2 separate regions of the Homo sapiens genome follow, and region 1 is linked to region 2. The links come from fine-mapping of genetic effects on plasma protein levels. A gene starts in region 2. The other region holds a variant in brackets. All regions are shown on one strand. Distances are from middle to middle.

What was found. PIP is the chance, under the fine-mapping model, that this variant and not a neighbour inherited with it causes the effect. Protein levels are from antibody-based Olink assays in UK Biobank. Linkage for the fine-mapping came from a reference panel and not from the study's own genotypes, which makes the PIPs less certain.
Region 1: its variant is fine-mapped to the plasma level of the IL1R1 protein (UK Biobank, PIP above 0.99).

The regions. Positions count from the first base shown.
Region 1 is chr2:102,029,403-102,037,922 of GRCh38, forward strand. No RefSeq gene overlaps it. Among named protein-coding and RNA genes, the nearest start is that of IL1R2, 42 kb to the left of the region's middle. The variant CAAA/C (reference allele first, on the strand shown) is at 4,513.
Region 2 is chr2:102,138,303-102,146,302 of GRCh38, forward strand. It overlaps IL1R1 (interleukin 1 receptor type 1), which reads left to right and starts at 4,444. Exons shown (of 12, transcript NM_000877.4): 1 at 4,444-4,718. RefSeq lists enhancers at 5,307-5,601, 5,367-5,661.

The DNA.
Region 1 (8,520 bases), 110 kb before region 2:
ATGGGATGAACTCTCTCTTGTTCATTACCAAAAGACTTGCAAGAGTAAAGGTGAGTAGGCTTAATTACATTATAATTTCTGCACAACAAAATAACAAAAGCAAGGTTTAGACAAAATTGTGTCAGACAAGTTCAAGGAATGAGTAACTATCATGTGTAGAGTTATTCAAAGTCATAGAAAAGGCATGTGTCTTAGTCTTTTTGGGCTGCTACAACAAAATACCATAACTAGGGTGGCTTGTAAACAACAGAAATTTATTTCTCACAGTTTTGGAGGTTGAGAAGTCCAAGATCAAGGTGCGAGCAGATTTGGTGTCTGGTGAGGGCCCACTTCCTGGCTAATAGACGGCAGCCCTCCTGACTTAATCACCTCCCAAGGGCCACAACTCCTAATACCATTGTATTGGAGGTTAGGGTTTCAACATATGAATTTTGGGAGGACACAAACATTCAGTTTATAGTAGCATCATCACCCTACAGATGAAAAAATGTGAGTAGGGGATTGCAGAAGAGACACACATAAAGGAACTCATGGAAAAATGACACTTTCAGTAAGAACCAGGGGATGTAAATTAGAGCAAATTTGAGATACCAGTGCACTCACACACTATCAAGTGTTTAAAAGTTTTTATGAAACACTCTCACACTTTAATTCAATTTATAATTTGGTGCTGGGAAGAAGAAAGGCAACATGAGCCAAGTCAGTTGGGTGCTGGACCAGCTTGCATCTTCTTGCAAGAGCCCAGGATGTGCCTCTCTTCTTGGCTCTGTTCAGTGATGTCATGTTGGTAGCTTAAAATCTGTGGCCATTGTGGAGTCTTTACACCACAGAAATTGGCAGTTGCCACAAATCAGCACTCTCTTCCCCAGTACATAACAACAAGGTTTGAGAGATGCCCAGTGATACTACTCCTGGGAATTTAGCTTAGGAAATAATTTAATAAAATAAAATCATTAGAGATATAAAATAATTTAATAAAACTTATTACCCCAATGATGAAAAATTATGCAGCAATTATCAATTATAATGATCAATACTATAATGACCAAATTATCAAAATTGTAAGACTTAAATGTTTACAGTGTTAAGGAAATATTATACATTGTTTTGTACAATTTTTATGGTTACAATATTGACATTTGTTTGCATCTAGACAAGGAGAAAACTTAAAAACTTGGACTTTGAAGGCAGACTTTGTGAGTTCAAGTTCAAGCACTGCCACATGGTGCCTCTGTGATCTTGGGCAAATCCTTTAATCTCAAAGTACATCAATTTTCTCATCTGAAAAATGGGGATAATCACTTAGTCCAAATTAACTTAGCTATTTAGCTATATTTTATATTTCCATTTTTCCTATTTTTCTATTTCAACTATAGTAACTGTTTAATAATCAAAAACATAGGAGGAATAGACAGAAATAAAAATTGTTGTACTTGGACTACGTGTTGACAAACCACAGCCTGTGGGCCAAATGCAGCCTGCCCTCTGTTTCTGTGGATTAAGAGTATTAGGAAACAGCCTTGCCTGTTTGTTTGCAGACTGTCTTTGGCCACTTTTGCTCTTTGAAGATAGAGTTGAGTAGTTGAGATGGCAAAACCTAGAATATTTACTATTTGGTCGTTTACAGGAAAAGTTTGCCAATGCCTGGTTTAGGTGAAGGCGGTTTTGAGCAGTTAACTTTTGACCCTCGCTTTTCTATTTTCCTGTTATCATCTCCTCTTTCCTTCTTCTGTTTTCTAAGCATTCAGGGAGGGAGAAGTACGGAGGGGCCGGCAGAGGCCTTTGAACACCTTATTAGATTTTAACCGGAAAGGAGAGGAGAGTGAGGTTTGAGAAGGAGGATTCGGTGAGGACGTTGCACAGGGTTCTTTGACTGCTTCTGCCTTTTCTTTATCTTCAGGCTTGGGGCCACGCGCTTGCATCTCTCTTCCTTCCTCGAACTTCTCCAGTGCTCTCTGGAGTCCCCCGCTTTAGATTCTGGCTGTTTCAGCAATGACCCAGAAAAGGAGCTGACTGCAGCCGGAGGAGAACCACCATCGGCTTTCAGACTCTGCCTTGACCTCACAGGTTACGCATTTCCTCCCCTCCACTATTTCAGAAGTGTGGGGTCACACAGGTAGAAAAGATGCGAGACAATCGGGGAATTTTGAGTGCTGGATTTATGCTAATATTAAGGAATAAGTGTGATATTTGCATTGCTGCATTCAAAAAAGGTTATTATCTAAGAGGCAAACTAAATATTTATTTATTTATTTATTTATTTATTTTTTTGAGATGGAGTCTTGCTCTGTCGTCCAGGCTGGAGTGCAGTGGCGCGATCTCAGCTCGCCGCAAGCTCCGCCTCCCGGGTTCACGCCATTCTCCTGCCTCAGCCTCCCGAGTAGCTGGGACTACAGGCGCCCGCCACCGTGCCTGGCTAATTTTTTTTGTATTTTTAGTAGAGACGGGGTTTCACCGTGGTCTCGATCTCCTGACCTCGTGATCCACCAGCCTCGGCCTCCCAAAGTGCTGGGATTACAGGCGTGAGCCACCGAGCCTGGCTGAGGCAGACTAAATTTTTTATGGGTGATGTGTGAGATTTGCTTCGAAGTTATCCAGTGGTGGATGGGAGAATACATGAAATAAGATTGGCCAAATGTTGATAACTGTTGGCCTTGGTGATGACTGCACCCTGCTTCCTTATATCATTCTTTCTACTTTTGTATATGTTTGAAAACTTCCATAATAAAGAGTAAAATACAATCCAGCAAAAACTCAATACCCGCTAGACAAGAGAATGTGTAGCTCTTACAAGTAATAAAATGCACTACAGTAAAAAACAACATGGAACAATATGGATGAATCTTAGATATATATTATTGAATGAGTCCCAGAAACATTTCTTAGAATGATGTCCTTTTACATAAAGTGAAAACAACTAAAGTTAATATGCTCTCTCTCGAATATGTGAAAGCATCTTCATATATATTCACACACACGGTTAAAATGTAGTTTTTGTCATATATATGCTCTTAAATATAGATGTGTGTGTGTGTGTGTGTGTTTGTTTGGATAGTGATTACATCAGGGTTGGGATGGATTAGGAAAACATAAACTTCATTAAGTTCTAGATCTCATGTTAGGTAGTAGACTGTGATTGTTTACTTTATTATTAAACAAACAGATTAAAAAAAAACACAAGCTATTCAGGGACCAATATAGAATCTGTGTCTTGAACCAAGGATTATGACTAACCTAATTCTGTGTCCCTAAGTCCAATTTGAACACACAAACAGATGGACAAGTGAAACAATGTGGTTTCTTTTCTTAAAGTGGCCTATCTCCTCTATTTTTTGTTGATTCTGTTGTTTTAACTTTCTGAAGGTGAATTTTTTCACCCCCAACCCTACAAAGGCTGGGGAGAGGGGGTGATAAATAGTTTTTGGAAACCTCACACTTCCATGCACTGCCCACAGGAAAAACCCACGTCTTATGTAATAAATGCCACTTCTGCAAGAACTAAGGATGAGAGCAGACATCAACAACAGAAGCCAAGAATAATTTATGAGCTAAAAAACAAATGTGATCTCTCAAGTATTTTGAATGCTATGGGAATATATAGGGACTCTTTCACAGAAAGGGTGGGATGTTTGTTTCTTGTAAGTTCCTCAAGGCAGGAGCCTTCTCGTTCCTTGATGCACCCCAGCACCGGGCACGGTGTCTTGCTGCGGCACAGGCATTTAAGAAGTGTCTGCAGAATGGATACAGCGTGTGTCACTTGGACTTTTCCAGCCTGTGTGAGCAAATGGGTCTTATCAGTGGGACTCAGCTAAGTTTCTCTGCTCCTGTCTCTACACTCAACTCTCATTGGTTTTTTCCATGATGTCCTGCCAATAGTTCACTTGGACACACAAAGGTGCTTTGTGTTTTGTGGTTGCTTTCCTGTTCTTGCGGTCCTCACCCATTGGCATCTCTGCCCATGCCACCCATCAGGGCTACTCGTTACTGCTACTGGGCTCCAAGAAGGCATTGCCACCAGTGGAGAAGCCATCCAGACGCCACCTGGGCTGTAGCCTCTGCCAGCTTCCGTGCTGGAGCCAGCTTGTGCACTCCTGAAAGCTCCTCCTTTCTTGGCTCATGGGTTCAGCCAGTCCTCAAAGCAGGGGTGGTGGGCTAGAAAGCTCCCTCCCACAGGGCTCAGGCACCAGCACATTCTCCTCCTCCTTGGCATGCCTGCAAAACCCACTTCCTCATTCTTCAGAAAAGCAAAGCAAAACAAAACCTCCTACAAAGGAACTCCCAGAACCCACTGCCCAGTGGTTTTTCAGAAACTGCCCAGACAGCTACCAGACCCCTGGTGGAGGCCGAGCTTCAGGGGCCAGGAACTACTACTCAGCCAGCTTCCAGGACAAGGGGAGAGAAAGCTTTAGATAAAAAAGAGTGGGAGAAATAAAGCAAGAATGAAGGAGGAGAAACCAACATCTAAATGTCTACATTGTGCAAGATTTTACATGTTTTGCTCAATTGAATCCT[CAAA/C]AAAAAAAAAAAAAAAATCCACCAGGCAAAGATTATAATTCACATTTTAGAGGTAAGGAAACTGAAGCTCACCTAATTTAAAAATTACCTCCTAGAGAGTGTGGTTTAGATGTGCAGCAGCAATGGGCTTCTTAATACCGAATCCCAGGATTCGACAGCTGAGAAACAGCTGGCCCATGCAGGGGCTGGTTTGAGTCAAGGTTACAGTCAGGAGCAGAGCAAATATTTGCTTTTCTAGGGGAAGACTAGCTACCACAAAGAGTTCATCTCCCGAAACCGGTAGAAGGTACATCTGGAATCTGGGGGACCAGGGGGACTGTAATAAGGATTCCTTCACAGGGAAGGAAGAATCAGAAGTAGGAACCGAGTGTCCTCTCCTACAGTATTTCCCAGCTTTTTGTTCTCTTAGCCTGTGGCCTGTGACCAATCAAGGCGTCACTGTCCTACTGGATGGAGGTGAGGCGTCCAGCGTGCAGTCCTGCCGCTGGGTCTGAGGCTACTCTCTCAGGAAATAAGAGTGTGAGTCCCTGGATCCTTCTGAGCCCACTGCAGGGACAATGTGGATTTAGCCCCCAGAAAGCACAGAAACAGCTAAGAACAGTCTGTGAATTAAATTAGTCTCAAAGCCATACTATACCTCAGGCTGACTGTTCACCTTGTTATATTTCCCACCCCAAATTGCTGTTTTCAAATATAGGCTTTATTATTCAGGTTTGGTGAGGCCAACAGATCAGGAGACAATAGCCATTGAAAATACAGTGGTATCCCCCAGATCCCAGCAGGAGGGGCACACCACACCATGGCGGTTGGGAGGGTGCCCAGAGAAGCACTAGGGCCGATCAGGAGGCTGAGGGAGTGAGGGGAAGGTGTGGGCGAGAGCTCTTCCGATGGTTTCTGTGGGAAGGAGTGGGTGAGGCAGGGTAGGCAGGCTTAGGATTGGCTGGTTTGAATGGTTTCCTTGGGCTCTTGGTGCATGGGCTGTCCCTCACTGGGTGTGGATAGTGACCCTGAGGGTGAGAGTTCCATAAAAGAGGTGGTTGGGGTGTGGCTCTGGATTGGTCGATTTGCATTTGAAAAGCATGTTGCAGAAGTAGGCAAGTTGTTTACTATCTCTAGGAATTGGCTAAACCAGGGAAAGGCCCAGGTATCAAAGCAACAAGGTCCCACGTACCAAAGCATCAGAAACACATGGTTAATACAACTGGGACAGCCAAGTGCAAAGGGGTTGCCGGAAAAACTCCAATAGGCCTGCGCACTGGGGTGGAGACTTGGGAAGTTCAAGCCTTTTGCGGCGGGGAGGAGCCTGGCTCGTCCTCTTCCTGGGTGGAACCAGGGATTCAATCTGCGAGGCGGGAAGCACACTAGCAGTGCTCTGCCTTTGCGGAGGGTCCCTGTTTCTCTTTTTTCCCCCCTTTTTGCCCAATAAATTCCACTTGTCTCACCCTTCAAAGTATCTGCAAGCCTAATTTCTCATGGCCATGTGACAAGAACCTGGCTGTTAGCTGAACTAAGGACAAAGGTCCTACAACACAATTACATCCTGCCTTGTCTGCTACAGCTCATCAGAAGCTCTGCACAGAAATTAAGTGGCCAAAAGTAAACAGCCAACAAAATAAATATGCTCCCAATTTTATTTTATTTTATTCTCTCAAGAATACCAAATATCCTTTATGAAGCATGGTAAAACAACTGCCATAAAACCTTAGAAGCGTTAGCAGCAAAAGCTTAGTGCCGCATAGAAATGTAGTCTTACATTTGTAGCCTGGGCAATATCTAAAAAGGATGTACACTAAGCCTCAAAAATTTTAAAATTAAAGCCTGAGTTTCTCCACAGCTCCTTCTTGCTCCATCCCAGCAAAGAGGCTGCTCCATCCAGGAGAGGGGACTGCAGTCAAGGCTGTCTTCCGTCTTCTGCAAGGAAGGGTGTGGCTCCTTAGGGCATTGCATTGGCCTCGCATGTCCCCTTTTAATGTGTCCCAGGCATTTATACAAGATCAGCACAGCCCTGACCCCACCTGCAATGAATTTTAAGACAAGCCATTCTCTGGTCCCTGGAGCAGTTTTTCTGGACAAATGTTGCTCCCAGGAATCCATACCCAGCAGTAACAGTGACCACAGCAGCAGTTCGGAGATATCAGGGGAAAGAATGGGGGATGCAGGTGGACCTCAGTCCAGTATCATCAGCATCCCTCTGCTGATTAGAGCCACAGGGTGGCCCAGTATCCTCGTTCCGCAAGCCCTCCAGGACATTCTTACTCCTGCTGTCAGTGGGAGCACCTCGATTTCTATGGTTAGGTCTAGAACCCATGACTTGGGAATGTTAGCTCTCTTTGGCCAATTATTCCAGCAGGAATTAGTGACAGTACCACCTTTGTCACATCTAGGGGAAATTTCACCGTGCATCTTATCTCAGCATTTGGGACCCTGGGCTTTCTTGAATAATCTTCAGGGGTAGCTCCCCAGTCTCCCAGGCTCCAGTCCTTTTTTGGAGACTTTCTTCCCCATCTAGCATATTCGGAGCTTCTCACTGTGTTTTTCCCGTAAGCCCATGATGATTTGGCTTCTGTCTTAGTGACAGAGCTTCCCCACTCTGTTGTCCTCAAGGCGACAGGGACCATGACCTCCTGGTATGGAACTTTCTAGGCCTCTGCACCTTTTCTGAGAAGAGGGCTCTTCCCCAGCCGCACTCCAGGTGCAAAATGACCCTCAGCAGATCACTCAAAGTGCTTCCACCCCTGGGTGAGAATGACCTTCTTGCCATGTACTCCTCAGTATGCAATTCTCTTCCTCGGCTTTTCAATGTTCAAGATGCTGTATGGTGTTTCTGTTGCATAGATATTTTTTGGAAGTGGAGAGGTATGCCTCGAGTGACTGTGTACCAGTTAAGCGTGGGTCCTCAGCGGCAGACTGGGATCATCTAGAGAGGTGAAACAACAATGCCACTGGTGTCTGGACCCATGCCCAGGGCCTCTGCTGTAAGTGATTGGGGTCCTGGGGGATTCTAATGAGTGGCATGGGCTGGAACCCCTGGTTTGACTTCTTTTCTTTCTAACACCTGTGGTCTGGTACTCCCGGCCCTTTGCTTTTTGTACCAGAAATTCATTCATTCACTTACTGCTTTATCCTAGCATACTCCTCTAGATTTTTGTCTCATGTGGGTCTTCCTTGTGGGAGCTTTAAAATCAGTAAATTTAGACTTGCCAAAACACCCTCTGTTTCTGATTTTAAAGACAAGCAAGGCAAAGTCCCTGTCCAACACCTCCACGTCCATCTAGGAAGTTCAGTACTTATTCCTGGCGTGTCCGTGTCCCAGTGTTTTCCCCCAGTGGTCTGTTTAACTATCCATGTGTTCCCCTGGATCCCTCAGAGGAATCCAGCCTGATCGATGCTGTTTGGAAAGCCGAGGTCTACAGGTTTCCCAATGTCAAAGACATGTCAAATGAATGAATGGATGAAATACGTTGGTGCTTGGTATCCGTCGGCGGTGGGATGTTCTCACAGCTAACAAGGAAGGTCTTCCCTGTAATCTAAGGAGAAGATTTGACTAGTAGCCCAGGAATCATTCCCTCCTGCTCAGTTACCAGTCTTCTTCCTCTTTAAGATTGCCTGCTGCCAGGCTGTCAATGGCACTCCAGCCTTGAGCTCCTTTATCTCACTGGGAAAAGAACCCTCAAGTTCTCCCCTTTAGTTTCATCCTTAATGTGTTCCCAATGAAATAGGGGACACTTGGGAGTTTGGTGTGAGCAGAGGGTAACTTTTCCAAGTCATCATGGGCACGGTTCTGTGTTTTCTGCTCTCTGGATTCAGTTTCCTGTTTAAAAGCCTGAAAGAATATCGCTGTTCGGCACGGAGTACTTGCTGAGCTCTGACTAAATACAAGTCTGTGATTAAATTATTTCAGACTCTAATAAAAATATTTTTAGAAGAAAGTCCTTTGGGAATTATGTAGAGTGCTGAGTGCATTTTTCTCGGCAAACACTTGGACCTGCCTTGTCTTTCTGAGTC
Region 2 (8,000 bases):
AAAAACCAGGTGCAAGAAGCCTCTTTCACTCATTTGCCTTCACTGAGCAAGATTCAAGCTGCAATTAGCACAAACAGTTGGCTGGTTTGCCTGTCACTTATGTCTTATCTTCCTCCTCTTATTAAGGAGGTTAAGAAATGGTTTATTGCCTATGACCGTCTTATGAAATATGTCACACTTTCTCATCAGCTCTTATTTCCTGTTCACATGTGGCTTTCTGGTTGGTAAAGGTTTTATTAAATCAGAGGAATTTGAACGGAAAGATAATCATAGTAGCCCACCACCAATTGCCTAGGGAAAGGGAGAGTGTTGAGTAGATTGAAATTGAGAAGTTGTAGTGAGAAAAAGTAAGGCGAAATGTAGATAAGAAAATAGTTACTTGAAAGTCAGCAGATGGAAAATGTATGAGAGGAGCGATAAAAAACCTAGGCTGTAGAAGGAAGTCCATCTAGGACAGTGGTTTCCAATCTTTGTTGTGGTTCTGTGAGAGTTTACTGGCAGTGCCATAAATAACAAAAATATGTGTAGCAAATTAAGAATCACAGAGGCCCTCTGTGCAAAAATGTAATTTTCTTTATTTCTTTACAATTGAAGCCAACTAGACTTAGGAATTCTCATTTCCACCTGATGGTAGAAAAAGATCTCACTAATTTAGAGTTGTTTTGTCCCCACTGGTTCAAGACTCAGTCTCTCTGGGGGTAGTAACACAATCTCTTCAGAATTCTTTCCTTCCAAACCCTGCATTTGTTTTTTCTGAAGGATCAATGGAGTTCTTTGGGGGTGGTGGGGCTAAAGTGGACCGAGCTGAAGAATGGTTGTCCTGGTGTCCCGGGAGGGGTTCTGGTCCATGAGTTATCCTCTGTTCTTGAAAACTTCAGCTAGGACCATGCTTGTCCCATCAGACTAGGTCCAAGGGCTCTTTGGTCTTCTTAGCTTCTGCACTGCCCCCTTTGAGTGTCTGGGGACTCTCAGCTGCTTTACTTGAACACTCTGGGATGCACTGGACTTTTCTCAAGGCAGCCTGTCCTCAGGCCCAGGCATATCTGCTGCCAGGCCTGCTGTTTGGCTCAGGCCATGTTGGACACGGGGGCTTTGCTATGACCCTGGTGGTGTCCAGAACTAGGCTGGGAAGCCAAATGGCATCCCTCTCTTCCAGTCTTCTCCATCAACCTCTTCAGTCAGGAGGAGGCCAGGTGATGCAGTTTGGATATTTGTCCCTGCCCAAATCTCATGTTAAAATGTAATCCCCAATGTTGGAGGTGGGGGCTGGTGGGAGTTGTTTGGATCATGGGGGTAGATCCCTCATGAATGGCTTGGGCCATCCCCTTGGTGATAAGCGAGCTTTTGCTCTGAGTTCACATGAGATCTGGTCATTTAAAAGTGAGTGGCACCTCCCGCACCTCTCTCTCGCTTCCTCCTGCTCTGGCCACGTGACGTACCTGCACCTCCTTCACCTTCTGTCATGATTGTTAGTTTCCTGAGGCCTCCTCAGAAGCCCAACAGATGGCAGTGCCATGCTTCCTGTATAGCCTACAGAACCATGAGAGAATTAAATCTCTTTTCTTATAAATTTCCCAGTTTCAGGTATTTTTTTATAGCAATGTAGGAATGGCCTAACACACCAGGATTTCTCTTATTAGGTGGTGCTGAAGAGTGGAAGCTCTGAGTCACTCCTCAGAAACCTTTCAGGGTCTAGTAAAGAGCAGCTCCCTCCCTCTGCTTCTCCCCTTCCCACCTGCTGGTCAACTCTGTTCCTTGGAGTGGGAACAAAAACAAATAGCTTTACATTACCATACATTCTTCTGTACTCCGTGGTTTATGATGTAAACCTTATGGTCTAAGTTGTCCAATACTTTGGCTTTGGAGGTTCAAGGAAAAAAAACATAAAATACTTCTTCTTTCAAGCCTAGCCTTAATGTTTATAATGGACAGTCTTTCAAAATGTCCTGCCACATGGGCCATAGGAGATGCTTTATTTTTCAGGCATTGGATTATGTTGTGTTGGTCAATATGATTTTGTTTCATGTGCATTATCAGAAACTCTTCCCAAAGAGGGTCCTGGGATCTGATCAGCTAGACAAGTGGAGGAGAAACTGAAAACCCTCAGGGGACAGGGTCTCAGTTAAGTCTCCTGAATGATAAGCATTTCAGAGGTGGGAGGGAGACACCCCGGAAGGTGTCCAGAGGCTAACAATGCTATTTCTGTTTCTTGTAAGTTTTTGTCCAAGATGTGGGCCATTGGATTGCATCACTAGCATACAATGTCAGTGTAAGCAGTAGGCTTTACACTAAAGCATGTTGATGTGCTCAGAGCATTTTTGTGGTGCTGAGACCAGAGCAGATAGGGATACAGGGATGACAGTCTCCACCTTACGGAAGCCTCCTACCCAGGGGATGGAGTGAGACAGGCAGGCACACCAGTTATCCAAGGAAAGGAAATAAAGGGAAGGAGAAAGTCAGTGAAAGTGGTCAGGATGGCTGAGTGAGGGAGAAGGTGACTTGAAGGTCCCAGATAGAACAGTGGTAATAAGGTGAGAAAGAGGAGGTCTTCCAATTCCATTTCTGTGTTGGGCGGGTGTTTGAGAGTCCCACCTGGGTCTAGAGGCCTGCATGTCTAGCAGGACACTGGGTAGGAGTGGCTGAACGGGGACAACACTTAAAAAAGACAAAAATTACGGATTTTATTTCTACATGGTTGCACAAATCAATTTCACTTTCTACTTGTAAACTGCTTAAAAACCTTCATTATGAAAATGGAAGGACGAATTTATGTTCACCATCATAGTGCTTCTGGGCTGGTTCCACAGCATGGAGCCAGGCCCACCTGCTGTAGCTTTCAGAACTGCCATTTGGACACGTGGTTGAAGCAGCCTTCAGTTGGAGGATTCACAGTAATGGCATCACTGTGGGAGCTTAGAGGAACAACTGCTTGCAACCCCAGCTGCACTGGAATTACCTGGGAGCTTTAAAAACACTGCCTTTTGGGCCTCAGCCCCAGAGACTCTGACGTGACTGATCTGAACACAGGAGTGTCATGTCCTCCGGTGATTCTGAGTGGAGTCAAGGCTGTGAGACCTTCTGCTGTATAAAGGAATATTGAGAGCTGGGATTGTTAAGGAATTCTCTTAATGCTACGTCACTGGCCTCTGATGTAAGCCTGCTTTCTCGAGGAAAAGGAACCATAAAAGCTTCTGGAAACAGATTGTTTAAGAATGAGAAATTGTCATCATGCCAGGTTGCAAGACAGCTTTTAGGGCAGATGAGCTTCTGCTGCTCATTCCTTCATCTTTTCCTCCAGCCTGGATTTGTCCGGGGGCAGCTGAGGCTCAGGTTACCTCAATTCTTGAGTTTCTGAAGAGGCATATCCAGGGGTGGGTTACGAGAACAAGAGCCTGCCCAGTCTGAAAGGGATGCAGGAAGGGGCGGTGTGTACTAGAAGGAAGGAAGCTATCATCATTTATTAAAACTCTTCTTGGAGGATGGCCCATGAAGACCTCCAAACAAGCTGGAGGGGCCAGTCACTTGCTGAAGACTAGCGAAGTGGAGGGGGAAAGCCCGAGGGAGCTGCAGACTCGACCACTGCGCCCTCCCCTCCTCTCCCTGCAAGGAGCCCAAGGTGTGATCCTGCCAGGCGTTCGTTCGCTGCATGACCTTGGCCATCCTTCCATTCCCCTGGGTGTGAATTCTCATTGGCAAAGTGAGCTGGTGGGCATAAGTGGGTTTTAAGTTTAAAAATTTAAAAACCCTGTCTGCCCCCAAGTGTGGTATCAAGATTTTATAGTATGACACTTAAATTGCTTTTTTCATCCGGGCGCGTAACAGCAACAATGAAACCAGCAGATAACGCGTGAGTAGTATCAGCTCTGGGCCTGGCACTATTTTATATGTATTAGCTCATTTTTTTTAAAAAACTGTTTTCAACCACTCCATGAGATGAGTGCTCTTATGATCCCTTTTTCACAGAAGAGGAAACGGAGGTACAAAGAAATTAGTGCACAAAGCCAGTCGGAGAGAGCCCCTGGCCAGGCACCAAGCTCCAGAGGTCGCTCTGGCGAGCGTTTGCTTCGGGATCTGATGCCCTGGAGTCGCCAACTCAATTCGCGGGTCGCAGCCAGGCTCCATGGGGGTAGTAGAGCCAGGTCGTAGTGGCTAGGTGAGTTGTCTCAACTAACTCTAGTGGAGCCGCCGCAGCCCTGGAGGAGCCGGGCCGCGACTCGAGAGCGCCCGGCAGCTCTCCAATGCTTTGGAACCGGCGGGACCCCTGCGGGCTACCCGGGGCAGGGCGGTGTCCGCAGGGGTCTGTCCAGCCGCGCCTGCTCCTCCGGGTGGAGAGTTGGGACACCCGGCCAGCTCGCTCGCAGCCCGCGGACTGGCCCAGCCGAGCCGTCTCCGCCCGTTCCCCGCCCCCGCAGCGGCGGGGCTAGAGCCAGAGCCGCGCCCGGCAGTTCCCGGCCGCGAGGGCGGGCGCAGCTTGTGGCCGGCGGCCGGAGCCGACTCGGAGCGCGCGGCGCCGGCCGGGAGGAGCCGGAGAGCGGCCGGGCCGGGCGGTGGGGGCGCCGGCCTGCCCCGCGCGCCCCAGGGAGCGGCAGGAATGTGACAATCGCGCGCCCGCGCACCGAAGCACTCCTCGCTCGGCTCCTAGGGCTCTCGCCCCTCTGAGCTGAGCCGGGTTCCGCCCGGGGCTGGGATCCCATCACCCTCCACGGCCGTCCGTCCAGGTACGGGGAAGCTGGAGCATCCGGGGACTAGGTAGGGGTGAGACGGACCACAGCCTTGACACCTTCGAGTCCCCCGCTCTGCAGGACGCCGTGAGCGTCCTCCCTAAGTTGCACTTGGTTGTCAGAGTGTGTTGTGTAAGAAGGGGATGGCGGTGAGGTCTGCGTGTGTGTGTTTCTTGTGTGGAGCAAGAGTTAACGTTGTTCAGGTCGTTTGAAGGAACTTGCCAGTTGTTCTGGAGGGGGGTTCTAGGTAGGTGTGTGACTTCCCGTGTGAATGGCTTTCAGGTTTTCTATCCGGCTACGTTCTACAGGTTCAGGAGCGTCCCTCTTAGAGGTTAGGCTCAGGACCGTCAGTCTCCTTAACAAGGTAAGGGCTGAGGCCTTAACCACACTGGGGAGGGTAACTTGTTGCCCCTCCAGATAAAGGATGGTGCTAGGGAATGTAGCTACAAGCAAGTAGGCGCTGAGAAGACACTCATTATTTACAACAGTCATGCCCAGCACTTTACAGTTTATAAGCCCTTGACAGCAACTGGTCTTTTACCCTCCCTACAGTCTTGTGAGGAGGGTGCTGTCATCACCCCTGTTTTACAGCGGGGGAAGCAGAAGTTTAGGTGACCAACTTGTTGGAGGATGATGTCCTGAAGGAGGGTAAGACCTCTGCATGCAGCCCCCCTCTGTCTTCCCTCCCACTCGTCCTGCCTGCCAGGGCTTTCTCCTCTGCACTGCCGGGAGGAAGGAAGGCCGCTGGGAAGGCACGCAGATGCTGGCTCCTGCTGGGCTGTCTCTCCACTGCCTTATCTTTGGGGCAGGGTAGCTTCTCAGATGGCCACATTCCTGTGATTTAGCTTTACATTCTAGGAACTGAGGCAAGGGACACCATGAACTTGGGCTCTTGAGGTCATGGAGCAAGGGTCCATTCGTCACGGGAATGTGATGGATGTCTCAGTCGCTGCGGTTTGGTGCCAGGCTTCTGGACATTGAATGTATGAAACAGAACTCCATGACTATTGATGAGCTGAGGAAAGCCAGAGGTGGCATGGGGACGTTCACTGTCCTTTTTGCCATCCAGTTTACCAAGCGGCTATTGGCATTGTTTTCTTTCTCAATCCCTTCTAATTTATTGTGTGATATCTCATTTGATATTTCATTTAATATTCTGTATTCATATCCGATGTTAACGTTTATGCTAGACAGAAAGGTAGAGCCTTTGAGAATGGGGTTTGCTGGGGCAGGGGTGTGGAACTCTGATTTATTTTCAGTCTCTGGCTAGCTGCCAAGCTGCTGTGTGTGAAGCGTCTCCTGCACCCGTCCACTCTCATGTGGCCTCCATGCTGTTCAGGAAAGGATATTTGATCTGAATTCTCACATGACCTTGGCAGGCCCAGAGCAGCACCCCCATTTCTAATAGGCCCTGCTTGTATGTCATAATGTGACATCAAGTTTTTTTTTTATGGTTCTGAAACCTGTGACATCTTTTGAGTCAACCTCTCACCATTGTTGAAACACTGCTTAATAGTAGATTCACTAATTTATTAAAGATTTATTGACTATCTACTATGTGCCAGGCACTGTGGTGAGTGGTGGGGAGACAGCGGTGAATACGACAAGTGAAAACCTCTGTCCCCTTATGGACATGAGTCTTCTTGGTAAGACATAGGATGTCAGCAGTCTCTCTTCAAAAGGGGGGTCTTTGAAATCCGCCCCTTTGTACAAGGGTGTGGATGCACTGGCTACCTAGAGGACACCACTCAGCAGCCCCAATGGAGAGGACGAGGAGATGATGGGCACAGATGTAGCTCTGTGGTTCCCTAGAGAATCGCAGGGCTGCTATTCTCCAAGTTTGTGGTGTCCCTTGCCTCAGTTCCTAGGATGTGGAGCTCTAGGAGGTGGAGCTACACTCTGTGGCTTGGCCATGCACAGGGACCAGGGCAGATGGAAACCCTGTGGCTGGGATGCATCAGTGCGAGCTGAGTGTCCACCTGCAAGCTGGGACATTATGGAGAAGACATCTCAGTAATAAGAGAGGCAAAGCTGGACAATTGCGGTGAAACTACCATAGCATAGTGGGTGGAGAAGTACAGAGATCCTTATATTCTTATGCTACATAATGGATATACTAGGTTCTTGCCATTTTAAAAGAAGTTGTCAGGGGCACCTGTGGCTCACCTGCCATGGCACAGCTCCAGGATGCTACCCATCTGTTGCCGTGAATGGGTGCTTGGTTTGCATTTTCTTCTTCTTGAGGTTGTGAGGTGGGCTGGTGGCACAAGACAAGGATCTGCACTGTCAGCAGCCTTTTTCTCCTCTGGTTGTCTGCTGTGGGTCCAGGAAATGCTGCTGGAGCCTCCCGGCCATGCCTAGTGCAGGGAGCATGTGGGAAGCCCTGGCCCCGAGTTATCTCACCAGGTACTGAAAGGGGCTGGAGCTCTTTAAGGTCCCAGTCGCCTGCATGTTGGATTCTGTGCTGTCTCCTCTTCATGCACATCCAGGAGCTCACACATGGCGGCACGATGGAGACACCTATCACTTCCCAAGAGGACTCATGCCCACGAGCGGACAGGGGGTCTCATAAATTAAAAGTAGGGTAAAAGGAAAACAAGAGCGGAGATGAAGTGGAGTCTGAAATGAGGCTTGACATGTGCAGTGTAAACCCTGATGACCTAGATGCTGCTAAAGTTACTCAAGTGGGGCCGTGAATGTGGAGGGAAGCCTGAGTCTTAGCTCTGCCTGCACCTTAGCACTGCCTGAAGCACTCAGGGAAATGCCAGGACTGGATGCAGAGCAAACAAACTAGCATCTCTGGAGGCGTGCTGGGCACGGGTATTTTCAAAGCCCCCCAGGTAGCCAAGGTTGACAACATAAATACATAAATACTCTTTCCTGTAGGCAGTGGGAAAGAGGAAACCCTGCAGGGCACAGCCAGCAGTGTCTTCAAGATGAAAGCAAAGTGCTCAGGAAAAAAAGCATTCTTGGCACAGAGAGAAGTGGGAAGTTTCTTTTAAAGATCCCTGAAAAAGAGGTGAGAATAGTGAGTTTTCGGTGGTCTCTTGAAATGACCCTCCCTGTAAGCACAGTTCGGTAATCATGGTTCAGCGAGCTGTGAACAGGAAGAGTCTAGCCATGCTGGTCTCTGCACATTTGGCGTCCCAAATGTGAGAACTCATAGATCCCTGAAAATACAGCCAATGACTAATGACTAAGAGTTAAATGAAAAGTTAGATGGTGTCACTTTCCATCAGTGGGTCTCACCTCATTAAAACCCAACACCCCCCTTAATGC